Regions from separate parts of the Homo sapiens genome. Here all the other regions are linked to region 2. The links come from fine-mapping of genetic effects on gene expression. A gene starts in region 2. Each other region holds a variant in brackets. All regions are shown on one strand. Distances are from middle to middle.

Region 1 (4,239 bases), 100 kb after region 2:
TACCCAGATGGGGAATGCGGGAGCGGCAGGCTTAGTGGAGAGAGCAAAAGTTCTGTTTTGGTTTGGAATAAGCATGCTTATTATGTTAATGGTCAGAAAAGAATGAATAAAAAAAAAATAATTAGCTCGCCTTTCCTGCCCCTGGAATCCTTGGCCTAAGTTGCTCTCCCAGGTTCCTTTGCTGCAGGTCAGGTGCCCTGGGGGATATGCCTTGGAGTGGCTGTCATGGTTCCAAGCTGACGCAACCTCTTGCCTCATCCTCCTGAGATTGCTGACCTGCTCTGCCTCCAGATCAGCCTGTTCTTTTTTTTTTCCATTTATTTATTTTAAGAGACAGGGTCTCACTCTGTCACCCAGGCTGGAGTGCAGTGGTGTAATCACGGCTCACTGCAGCCTTGAGCTCCTGGGCTCAATCAGTCCTCCCATCTCAGCCTCCTGAGTAGCTGGGACTACATGGCTGGCTAATTTTAATTTTTTTTTTAAATTATACTTTAAGTTTTAGGGTACATGTGCACAACGTGCAGGTTAGTTACATATGTATACATATGCCATCTTGGTGTCCTGCACCCATTAACTCGTCATTTAACATTAGGTATATCTCCCAATGCTATCCTTCCCCCGTCCCCCCACCCCACAACAGGCCCCAGTGTGTGATGTTCCCGTTCCTGTGTCCATGTGTTCTCATTGTTCAGTTCCCACCTATGAGTGAGAACATGTGGTGTTTGGTTTTTTGTCCTTGCGATAGTTTGCTGAGAATGATGGTTTCCGGCTTCATCCATGTCCCTACAAAGGACATGAACTCGTCATTTTTTATGGCTGCATAGTGTTCCATGGTGTGTATGTGCCACATTTTCTTAATCCAGTCTATCATTGTTGGACATTTGGCTTGGTTCCAAGTCTTTGCTATTGTGAATAATGCTGCAATAAACATACATGTGCATGTGTCTTTATAGCAGCATGATTTATAATCCTTTGGGTATATATCCAGTAATGGGATTGCTGGGTCAAATGGTATTTCTAGTTCTAGATCCCTGAGGAATCGCCACACTGACTACCACAGCGGTTGAACTTGTTTACAGTCCCACCAACAGTGTAAAAGTGTTCCTATTTCTCCACATCCTCTCCAGCACCTGTTGTTTCCTGACTTTTTAATGATCACCATTCTAACTGGTGTGAGATGGTATCTCATTGTGGTTTTGATTTGCATCTCTCTGATGGCCAGTGATGATGAGCATTTTTTTCATGTGTCTTTTGGCTGCATAAATGTCTTCTTTCGAGAAGTGTCTATTATATCCTTTGCCCACTTTTTGATGGGGTTGTTTGTTTTTTTTCTTGTAAATTTGTTTGAGTTCATTGTAGATTCTGGATATTAGCCCTTTGTCAGATAAGTAGATTGCAAAAATTTTCTCCCATTCTGTAGGTTGTCTGTTCACTCTGATGGTAGTTTCTTTTGCTGTGCAGAAGCTCTTTAGTTTAATGAGATCCCGTTTGTCAATTTTGGCTTTGGTTGCCATTGCTTTTGGTGTTTTAGACATGAAGTCCTTGCCCATGCCTATGTCCTGAATGGTATTGCCTAGGTTTTCTTCTAGTGTTTTTATGGTTTTAGGTCTAACATTTAAGTCTTTAATCCATCTTGAATTAATTTTTGTATAAGGTGTAAGGAAGGGATCCAGTTTCAGCTTTCTACATATGGCTAGCCAGTTTTCCCAGCACCATTTATTAAATAGGGAATCCTTTCCCCATTTCCTGTTTTTATCAGGTTTGTCAAAGATCAGATGGTTATAGATATGCGGCAATATTTCTGAGGGCTCTGCTCTGTTCCGTTGGTCTATATCTCTGTTTTGGTACCAGTACCATGCTGTTTTGGTTACTGTAGCCTTGTAGTATAGTTTGAAGTCAGGTAGCGTGATGCCTCCAGCTTTGTTCTTTTGGCTTAGGATTGACTTGGCAATGTGGGCTCTTTTTTGGTTCCATATGAACTTTAAAGTAGTTTTTTCCAATTCTGTGAAGAAAGTCATTGGTAGCTTGATGGGGATGGCATTGAATCTATAAATTACCTTGGGCAGTATGGCCATTTTCATGATATTGATTCTTCCTACCCATGAGCATGGAATGTTCTTCCATTTGTTTTATCCTCTTTTATTTCATTGAGCAGTGGTTTGTAGTTCTCCTTGAAGAAGTCCTTCACGTCCCTTGTAAGTTGGATTCCTAGGTATTTTATTCTCTTTGAAGCAATTGTGAATGGGAGTTCACTCATGATTTGGCTCTCTGTCTATTATTGGTGTATAAGAATGCTTGTGATTTTTGCACATTGATTTTGTATCCTGAGACTTTGCATCCTGAGACTTTGCTGAAGTTGCCTATCAGC[C/T]TAAGGAGATTTTGGGCTGAGACAATGGGGTTTTCTACAAATACAATCATGTCATCTGCAAACAGGAACAATTTGACTTCCTCTTTTCCTAATTGAATACCCTTTATTTCCTTCTCCTGCCTGATTGCCCTGGCCAGAGCTTCCAACACTATGTTGAATAGGAGTGGTGAGAGAGGGCATCCCTGTCTTGTGCCAGTTTTCAAAGGGAATGCTTCCAGTTTTTGCCCATTCAGTATGATATTGGCTGTGGGTTTGTCATAGATAGCTCTTATTATTTTGAGATATGTCCCATCAATACCTAATTTATTGAGAGTTTTTAGCATGAAGAGTTGTTGAATTTTGTCAAAGGCCTTTTCTGCATCTATTGAGATAATCATATGGTTTTTGTCTTTGGTTCTGTTTATATGCTGGATTACGTTTATTGATTTGTGTATGTTGAACCAACCTTGCATCCCAGGGATGAAGCCCACTTGATCGTGGCGGATAAGCTTTTTGATGTGCTGCTGGATTCAGTTTGCCAGTATTTTATTGAGGATTTTTGCATCGATGTTCATCAGGGATATTGGCCTAAAATTCTCTTTTTTTGTTGTGTCTCTGCCAGGCTTTGGTATCAGGATGATGCTGGCCTCACAAAATGAGTTAGGGAGGATTCCCTCTTTTTCTATTGATTGGAATAGTTTCAGAAGGAATGGTACCAGCTCCTCCTTGTACCTCTGGTAGAATTCGGCTGTGAATCCATCTGGTCCTTGACTTTTTTTGGTTGGTAAACTATTAATTATTGCCTCAATTTCAGAGCCTATTATTGGTCTATTCAGGGATTCAACTTCTTCCTGGTTTAGTCTTGGGATGGTGTATGTGTCGAGGAATTTATCCATTTCTTCTAGATTTTCTAGTTTATTTGCGTAGAGGTGTTTATAGTATTCTCTGATGGTAGTTTGTATTTCTGTGGGATCGGTGGTGATAATCCCCTTTATCATTTTTTGTTGCATCTATTTGATTCTTCTCTCTTTTCTTCTTTATTAATCTTGCTAGCAGTCTATGAATTTTGTTGTTCTTTTCAAAAATCTAGCTCCTGGATTCATTGATTTTTTTGAAAGGTTTTTTGTGTCTCTATCTCCTTCAGTTCTGCTGTGATCTTAGTTATTTCTTGCCTTCTGCTAGCTTTTGAATGTGTTTGCTCTTGCTTCTCTAGTTCTTTTAATTGTGATGTTAGGGTGTCAATTTTAGATCTTTCCTGCTTTCTCTTGTGGGCATTTAGTGCTATAAATTTCCCCCTACAGACTGCTTTGAATGTGTCCCAGAGATTCTGGTATGTTGTGTCTTTGTTCTCGTTGGTTTCAAAGAACATCTTTATTTCTGCCTTCATTTCGTTGTGTACCCAGCAGTCATTCAGGAGCAGGTTGTTCAGTTTCCATGTAGTTGAGCGGTTTTGAGTTAGTTTCTTAATGCTGAGTTCTAGTTTGATTGCACTGTGGTCTGAGAGACAGTTTGTTATCATTTCTGTTCTTTTACATTTGCTGAGGAGTGCTTTACTTCCAAGTATGTGGTCAATTTTGGAATAGGTGCGGTGTGGTGCTGCAAAGAATTATATTCTGTTGATTTGGGGTGGAGAGTTCTGTAGATGTCTATTAGGTCCGCTTGGTGCAGAGCTGAGTTCAATTCCTGGATATCCTTGTTAACTTTCTGTTTCGTTGATCTGTCTAATGTTGACAGTGGGTTGTTAAAGTCTCCCATTATTATTGTGTGGGAGTCTAAGTCTCTTTGTAGGTCTCTAAGGACTTGCTTTATGAATCTGGGTGCTCCTGTATTGGGTGCATATATATTTAGGATAGTTAGCTCTTCTTGTTGAATTGATCCCTTTACCATTATGT
Region 2 (4,239 bases):
AGGCCAAGGTGACCTGTTGGCCAGCCTGGGGCTCCACAGTGCCTGGTACCCTGAGGCTCACGGGCATCTCCTCTGACCCTCACATCCACCCATGAGCACAGCCCCACTTGACAGATGAGAAGACTCTGTCACATGGCTAATCAGAGGCTACTAGAATTTGAACCCAGGGCTGGCTGACCCCCCAGATAGAGTTATCTTACCTCCGCCCCAGAGATGGAGTCTTGCTCCGTCTCCCAGGCTGGAGTGCAGTGGCACGATCTCAGTTCACTGCAACCTCCACCTCCGGGGTTCAAGTGATTCTCCTGCCTCAGCCTTCCCGAGTAGCTGGGATTACAGGCGCCCGCCACCAAACCCAGCTAATTTTTTTATTTTTAGTAGAGACAGGGTTTCACCATGCTGGCCAGGCTGGTCTCGAATTCCTGACCTCAGGTGATCCACCCACCTCGGCCTCCTAAAGTGTTGGGATTACAGGCATGAGCCACCACGCCCGGCCCAGGTAGAGTTCTTAAGCAACTTGGCCCTGTGGGTGTTGGGGAGGCCATCTGTCCCTGGTTTCTGTCACTGTGGCTGCGTTTGAACATGTCTATGGCTGAGTAGTTTCTAGTGGGTGCAGGAGTCCCCATGGGGACACCCAGATGCCCCACAGGAAGCACTGTGGCTGCTTCAGACAAATGAACTGCAGGGATCCCAGGGGGTCCCCAGAGCACCCCCATTTGCTCTGCACATGGCCTTGGGTGCAGCTGAGCCCCCTTTGGAAAGATAGACTAAGGCATAGAGACGGGCTGGGAGGCTGCTGGGGCCTCCCAGGAAGGCCTTCCATGGGACTGACCCAGCTCTGGCCCTCCCCTTCCTGTCTCCTATGCCTGCACCCCAAAGCCTAATTCTGGGGATTCCCCTCTCAATTCCTGTTTTTTCATCCCGCGATTTCTGGGGCCACTTCCTCTCTCTGTTTCTGTCCATCTCAGCCTCTGCACTTGCTTGGCCTGGGGGTGGGAGTGAGGGGACTAGGGAGGCAGGAGTGCCCTCAGCGGCTCCTGTGAACCCTGAGTGCTGACCGTTCACCCTTCCTTATCCTCCCTGACCTGGATTCCTGACATCTGCTGGGCCCAGGGTGGCCTCTATGCTCCTGCTGGACATATGCCTCCCTCTTATGAGGTGGTCTTGGGTGGGGATGGGGGGGTTCAAGCCACTCTGGGGACGGTGGATTCGAGGCTTCTCCCCTCAAGTGGCTCCCAGTGGTCTCCAGGGTGGGGCTGGGAGTGTGGGCTCGGAGTGTGGCATTGGTGTCTCACTTGGGCGTTGGGCAGGTGGCCTCTGGGCTGACCGTGGGAGAGGCTGCAGGACCACCTTCTGCCCTCTGCCCTGAGTGACCAGGGAGAGGTCCCGGAGCAGAATCCCCCTTCCTCCTGCCCCCACCCTCCTGGCCGCTCTCACTGGGCCCCTCAGTTGAGCCACCTGTCAAATCAGGCGCCTGAGCGCTCTCATCTGTAAAGTGGGGACAAGGGCAGGAAGCGCCAAGTTCCTGGGATCTAAGCAACAAGTGGCCGCCGCCGTGCGCCGCTCTCTCCTCCCGCCTCCCCCGGTCTCCGGCCCGGCCTCTCCCTCCCCATCCCCAACGGCCCAGCGCCACCCCTACCCCACAGCGGACAGTGCGGGCGCCTCCGGTGTCCAGAGGACAAAGAAGCCCCACCGGCCGGGGTGGGGGCGAGGGCGGAGTAGGAAGGAGCCCGGCCGCGGAGGGGAGGAGGGCGATGAAGTCACCGCGGGGCCGCCTCACCCAGTCCCGGGGGTGGGGGATCCCTCCCGCTCCGCACGGCCCCCCGCCGGCTCGGCCCCGCAGGTCGAGGCCCCGGCCCGCACTACCCGCTCGCAGGAAAGCGGACCCCGCTGCGGCCCGGGAGTCCCGGAGGTCCGAGTTGCCCGAGTCCCCGGGGCCCAGAGAGGGCGGGGGCGCCTGGCTCACACAGCAGGACCCACATCCCCGGGCCCCACCCACTTCCCACGGCCCCCAGCTCTGGACTCGCGGGGACAGCGCCGCGGATGGCCTGGGCTCGGGCCCCGCCCCGCCGTCCAAAGTTTGGGGACCTCGACCCAACTTCGCCAGGCGCCCGAGAGAAGTCGGCCGAGGCGGCGCGGAGAGGGGGTATCGGAGCACGGCGGCCGCCCCCGGACCCCACCCGCGCCCCGACGTCCTCCTCCGAAAGGAGCCGCGCAGTCCTAGCGGGGCGGCCGAGGGTCCCGCCGCACTCACCGACTCGGCCAGCAGGAGGCGGCCTTTGAGAGAGCAGAGGAAAGCCCGCGCCGGCAGCAGGGCGCGGAGCCCGGGGACCGCGGGGCCGGGACGGGAGCCGCCGGCAGGCTCGGGGTCCGGGTCGGGGTCGGGGTCTGGGGGCCACATGGCGGCGGCGGCGGTAGGGCCGGGGCTCGGCCTGGCTCCCCTCTTCTCGCGCCCGGAGGGAAGCGGAAACCCGGGCTGTGCGGAAGGAGGGCAGGCGACACTGGCTCGCGCAGGGGCGCATCCCCCGCCGCCACGCCCCGCCCCGCCCCCACCCGCTCCTCCAGCCCGCCCCTCCCCCTCGGACCCCGGCTGCGGGGGATGCTGGGCCCGACCCGCCCCCTCCCCGGCCTGGGGCCTCCGCAGACTCCACCTTCTTCTTCACCCTGGTTCGGGCCGCTGGAGACCTCCCGATCACCGCCCCGGCACCCCTTCGGAGCTCCCACCCGTCTGCCCCTATCCAGAAGGGCTGTCTATACTCGCTGTCTCCGGTCTAACTTCCTGCCCGTGCGCGTGTCTGGGATCCGGGAACCCAGGCGTCTAAACAGCAAAGACCCCGGCCGTGATGTCGGCTCCGCAACCCATGCCCTCTCTTTTTCTTGGGGGCCGGAGTTTTCTTGCGACTTTCTTGGCCACCCCTCCTGTCCCCGGCCAGCCCCACCCTCCTCCAGGGCCTCTTTGTTGGCTGTTCCAGGCCTCGGTCCTGCACCCGCCTCCCCCAACCCATTCTCAGAGGACTCTCAGACCTGCAAGCGCAGCTCCAGGCACACACACAGACACACACACACGCGCGCGCGCGCGCAAACACACACAGGCACGCACATCTGCAGGACTTCCTGACCTGCAGTCCCCCCACCCCAACACATCTCTCTCTCTCACACACACACACACACACACTCCACACGCACATGCGTGCACATCTAGAGAGCGTCTGGAGTTCAGCGTGATCAAGACCCAGCTTCCTGTGCCTCTGCGAAGGGCACTGCCCCCTCCTTTCCTTCCACCTGACTAGCGGAGACCTGCGGGTTGTCCTTGTCCCTCTTCACCGGCAGTCTGTAACCAAGGTCCTCCCACTTTCACCTCCTATAACTTTCTCTGATCTCTGTCTACTTCTCACCACCACTAGATCCGAAACCATTCCTGCCTGCTCCCCGCTGAACTGCTGTGATGGTGTCTTTAAGAGGCCCTTAGGTTTTCTCTCTGGGCAGCCGGGGGAGAGCTTATGGCACAGTACTGCGCACCCTTGACATAACTAACTCCATCTTAGAAAAAGACTTCATTTTATATTTCATAGGGTGCTTTGCCAACAAGGGCAAGATGTTTTGTTTAATAAAAAATAGAAGGTCAGGCGCTGTGGCTCATGCCTGTAATCCCAGCACGTTGGGAGGCTGAGGTGGGTGGATCACGAGGTCAGGAGTTCGAGACCAGCCTGGCCAATATAGTGAAACCCCGTGTCTACTAAAAATACAAAAATTAGCTGGGCGTGGTGGCACCGTGCCTATAATCTCAGCTACTCAGGAGGCTGAGGCACAAGAATCGCTTGAACCCGGGAGGCATAGGTTGCAGTGAGCCAAAATCACACCACTGCACCCCAGCCTGGGCGACAGAGCAAGACTCTGTCTCAAAAAATAAAAAAAAAAATAAATAAAGACTGCGTCCAACCACATAAGGACACAAAGAAGCACACTGTTCCTCTACCATTTCTCACCAGAGCACTCTGTGACTACAAAACAGCAGCCCAGCAGCCTTAACTGACAACCATCCCACTGCCGTTCATAAGAACTCTGCATCTGCCTCCCAAGGCTCTGCCCCTCAAAGACTCTGCAAGACCCTCAAGCCCAGACCAGGATTCCTTTTGTCTTCTTCCTTACCCTGGAACTGGTTCCTTAACCCTTTCTCCTATCTCTTTTTCTCTTGATGTTAAATGCTACTTTGTTTGTTGTGGAATGTTTATAACATTTACA
Region 3 (4,239 bases), 83 kb after region 2:
TTGCTGGGGGCTGTGTTGTGTTATCTTTGTTTTTAAGGTTTCTGGACTTATTCCTAGGCCAAGAATCAGGCAGCCATAGGGCAAAGTAAAAAGTATTTTTAGCCAGAGCCACAGAAGGGATAAAGGGAAGGAAGACTAGAGCTTGGCCACTCTCCGGACAACTCCAGCTGCCCTCGATGGAGCGGTCATCCACAACGAAGTATTACTGAGAAAGTAGATGTGGGGTTTTTTTGTTTTTTGTTTTTTGTTTTTTTGATTTTGAGACAGAATCTTGCTCTGTTGCTCAGGCTGGATCACTCAGGCGATCTCAGCTCACTGCAACCTCTGCTTCCCAGATTCAAGCAATTCTCCTGCCTCAGCCTCCCGAGTAGCTGGGATTACAGGCGCCCACCACCACGCCTGGCTCATTTTTGTATTTTTAGTAGAGACAGGGTTTTACCATGTTGGCCAGGCCGGTCTCGAACTCCTGACCTCAAGTGATCTGCCTGCCTCAGCCTCCCAAAGTGTTGGGATTATAGGCGTGAGCCACCATGCCTGGCCAAAGTAGATGTTTTTAGAGGTTTCGGCTCCTTCAAAATGCAGATTACTGTCATTGTCACTACCTATGCAAAATGTAGCATAGAACTGACTTTGGCTGGGTCCTTTGCCCATACCTAGAATAAGGTGTCTTGGTTCCCACCTGCAGGGAGTTCAGCCAGGTACTGGGAACCACACGGTGGCATGTGGGGCGTCAGCTCCTGCCTGGGAGCTCGTGTTTCCTCATTTCCTGGGATGCTCTAGGAAAAGGCTTCCCAAAATGCCATGATGGGGAGCCCTTCACAAGGTGGGAGGGCACATTACCATTGCCCCTTCAGTGCTTGGGTTGATCTTTTTCTCCCTCTCAGAAGCTCTTGCAACCTTGGTTCAGGATCTGTGGGGGCCTAGACAGAAGGCTATATGGCAGGCTCAGGTCCCCAGAAAAGCCCACATATTGGAATCCTGCATCTCCTCGAAGTAAAATTTCTTGAAGGGTGTTCTTGCTCTTTGGGCTGTGAACAAATGAAGAGCTCGCCAGGGAAAAGACCCACCTCTTCTGGCACTGTCTACCCTGGCGAGGTTGGGGTGTGCAGAATGTAACTGCAGTTATGCCACCAGGGATTCGAGAGGGCTGTGTTAATTGCTGGAGAGGAAGATTCCAGTTACACAGTATCCTTAAAGACGGGAACTTCTTTTTCTTTTTTTTGAGACGGAGTTTTGCTGTTATTGCCCAGGCTGGAGTGCAGTGGTGCAATCTCGGCTCACTGCAGCCTCCACCTCCCGGGTTCAAGCGATTCTCCTGCCTCAGCCTCCCGAGTAGCTGGGATTAGTCATGTGCCACAACGCCCGGCTAATTTTGTATTTTTAGTATAGATGGGGTTTCTCCATGGTGGTCAGGCTAGTCTCGAACTCCCGACCTCAGGTGATCTGCCTGCCTCAGCCTGCCAAAGTGCTGGGATTACAGGCGTTAGCCATTGCGTCTGGCCAAAGACAGGAACGTGTAAGGGGCAGGCAGCTGGCTGGCATGAAAAGCTGAAGGTGGTGAGCAAGATTCATGTAGCTAAAGAGGCCACACAGGTGACTGTGTGGGCCGAGTAATGGGAAGCAAAGGTTTTACAAGATTGCCTGGTCGTCCTTTTCTAAGAACAGAAGTGAGGGCGTGGAGTGGGACCCAGCTCGGGAAGTGGCATGCTGACTCACCTGTGGCTTGTGGTTGGGGACACTGAGTAAGACCTGGTGTTTGGAACCACAGGCTGGGCCTCCTCCCCTGCTGATTGGCCCAGGGGCTTAAGTTCTTCCCAGCTCCTGTCTAGACTGAAACCTCCTGGTGTGGGTCATGCGCCTAAGAGCTGTGGCCTTCCTGGAGCTCAGGCTAGAGAGACACTGGACTTGATCCGAGTCAGCTGACAGACTGGGGTGGGCGGGTGGTGCAATGGAGAGCATTTGGGTTTGGGGGTAGGGAGAGCCAGGCTTGGACCCCTGCTCAGACAGAGTTGGCCTTCACTTCTCTGATCCTCAGGTTTCTTCTATAAACTGGGACTGAAGCCAGCCTCACAAGGTCTTGTGAAAACAAAAGGAAATAACGTATACAAGGGAGCTCTTCCATTCCATTCCGCACAGACTGGGGGGCTCTCTTGGCCTCAGGGAAGGATGCAAGAAATTGTACTGATGTAACAGCAGGATTCATGTGGATCAAGACCTTGGTTTTGCCCCCTTGGGGTCAGGGCA[A/G]GGGTGAGACCCCCATGCCCACTGTTGAGTTGTGTGCTTGGATTTGCCAAGCTTGGATTTGCTTGGTATTGCTCTCCGTGCATTCTGTAGAAATAAAGGCAGTGGCTTGTCTTGTCGGTGGTGTGGGGAGCCCCATGCTTGAGACAGACACAGGAGGAGCTGGGCAGAGTTCCTAGGAGGAAATACAGTTAGAGCAGCGCCCACTGTGCCCCATGTCCCTCGGAGTCATGGAGATCAGGCTTCTGTTTCCTCACTCAGCTCAGACACTGGTCATTCAGTCCTCCTGGATCCCCCAGCCTCTTCTGGCACATGGTTCTAGTCATGGAAGGGTTTTCAATAGGTCTGGCCTACTGACCCTGCCCATGGGAGGCCACCCGACCAAGGACCCCTTCCAAGAGCATTGGGAAGGGAGAGGCTGCCCCTCAGTCTGCACCAACCCTGTGGGGGAAGCCTTTTGTTTGGCTGTGATGGGGGTGGGAGTGGGAGGCCCCTGTGACTACCTGGAGCCGATTCCCAGGGGAGCTGTGGCAGGGGCAGAGCCACCGGAGTCTGTCAGTCCCAGAGTCCCCCACAGGTGTGACCCCCTCCCCATGTCTCCATGTGCAGACCCCCGTGTACTGTGACTGTTTTGCAGTGGTGGTTGGTTTGGTTTTAGTTAACACTGCTTCATTTGTTCTGAGCTGTGGTTCAGTTCCATGATCATATCTGTGGGCACCCTCCCAGCTCTGGGATTGGACAGAGTCTCCCTCGAGCTGTGCAGACGCATGAGGTACTCCGGTGGCTAGTCCAGCCTTGGACACTTGGGAGACTGTCCCATGGGCAGCTCAGCTTCTCCCCAGTTGCTGCTAACTGGCCCCACCCCTTTGGTGCCACCTCTTCTGTGCCCTCAAGCCATGAGTTTGCTGGAGTAGGCGAGAAGCTAATCAGCAGCTTCCTCATTGCACATCCTCATTTTCTTAGAGTCAATTTTGTTCTCAGTCTTCTTTTTCCAGAAAAGGAAAATAAGAGATAGTGGTTTGGTTTCTTGAACATCAAATATTCGGAGCTGAACTAACTGAAACCCAACTCAGGGTAGCCTGAACAATGAGGTGTCATCAACTCCCAACAGATGGCTTATTTGGTGCCTCTGGCCTGGTTTCTCTACATTTTGCTACTGTGCATCCTGTTCGTGTCCTCATGCAGTTCTCTCAGGGTGACAATGTAGTCGTGGCAGCATTGGGCTTCTCACTCGCTGGTTGGAGTAAGGGCAGGTGTCTTGCTAGTGGCTCTTCCCTAAGCGTGCGGAAGTATCTTTTCTGTAAGTCCCTGCAAACCTCCCTCACGCCTGCCTAATCCAAATTGGGCCCCTGGCTGGGGGAGGCCCTGCACTGATTGACTTAGCTTGGCTTCCTGAACGCATTGCTGGAACTAGGGGAGACGACTTCCTTTAGACCGATTGTGCCTACCCTAAAGCTTGGAAGCTTGGGGTGGGGTGAGGTTTCCCTGAAGCCCTTGGGTCTGTGGATGGACCCTGAATAAAGAATGGGCTACTTTTAAGGAGGTAAGCGGAGAGGAGGCAGGGAGGCAGCCTGTGGACACAAAGTTGTCACCTGAACTTGTAGTGCCTGAGTTTTGTTGCCTGGGAGTCCCCTCTGCAATGCTGTAGGATTTCCTTCCCACTCCTCCAGCCTCCCACGCAGCTTCTCCAGGTTTTCTGGGAGTCCTGGCCGTCCCACAGGTTGGTCTGCCCTGGCCTCTGTGCTGCAGTCTGCTCAGGCCCCGCTGCTGTTCTCCGTCCACTCTCCCGCTCCTCTGTCAAATACTCTTCTCTTCTGAGGACATGGGGGTGGTCTCAGAGACTAGGGGAGAATGTCCCTCTCCAGTTGGTGCCATGCCTTGCTGTTAGGGCCCCAAGACAGGGCTACTTGTGCCCTTGGCCTCCCAGAGTGCCTGCCTCACTCTTCCAGCCTCTTACTTCCTTCCATGCTCATCCCCTCGTGGGACTGGAGTCAGCCC

Evidence for each region. PIP is the estimated chance that this variant, and not a neighbour inherited with it, causes the effect.
Region 1: its variant is the best candidate, but not a certain one, in a credible set for the expression of CMTM3 in whole blood (INTERVAL, PIP 0.88).
Region 3: its variant is the best candidate, but not a certain one, in a credible set for the expression of CMTM3 in whole blood (TOPMed, PIP 0.68).

Annotation. Positions count from the first base shown.
Region 1 is chr16:66,498,360-66,502,598 of GRCh38, reverse strand. No RefSeq gene overlaps it. Among named protein-coding and RNA genes, the nearest start is that of BEAN1-AS1, 24 kb to the right of the region's middle. The variant C/T (reference allele first, on the strand shown) is at 2,369.
Region 2 is chr16:66,602,965-66,607,203 of GRCh38, reverse strand. It overlaps CMTM3 (CKLF like MARVEL transmembrane domain containing 3), which reads right to left and starts at 2,500. Exons shown (of 5, transcript NM_181553.4): 1 at 2,252-2,500. The coding sequence starts at 2,398. It also overlaps a transcript of CMTM4 not described here. RefSeq lists silencers at 1,496-1,715, 1,776-2,615.
Region 3 is chr16:66,519,848-66,524,086 of GRCh38, reverse strand. All of the region lies in intron 6 of TK2 (thymidine kinase 2), which reads left to right. Among named protein-coding and RNA genes, the nearest start is that of TK2, 28 kb to the left of the region's middle. RefSeq lists enhancers at 76-185, 1,585-1,654, 3,559-4,059. The variant A/G (reference allele first, on the strand shown) is at 2,245.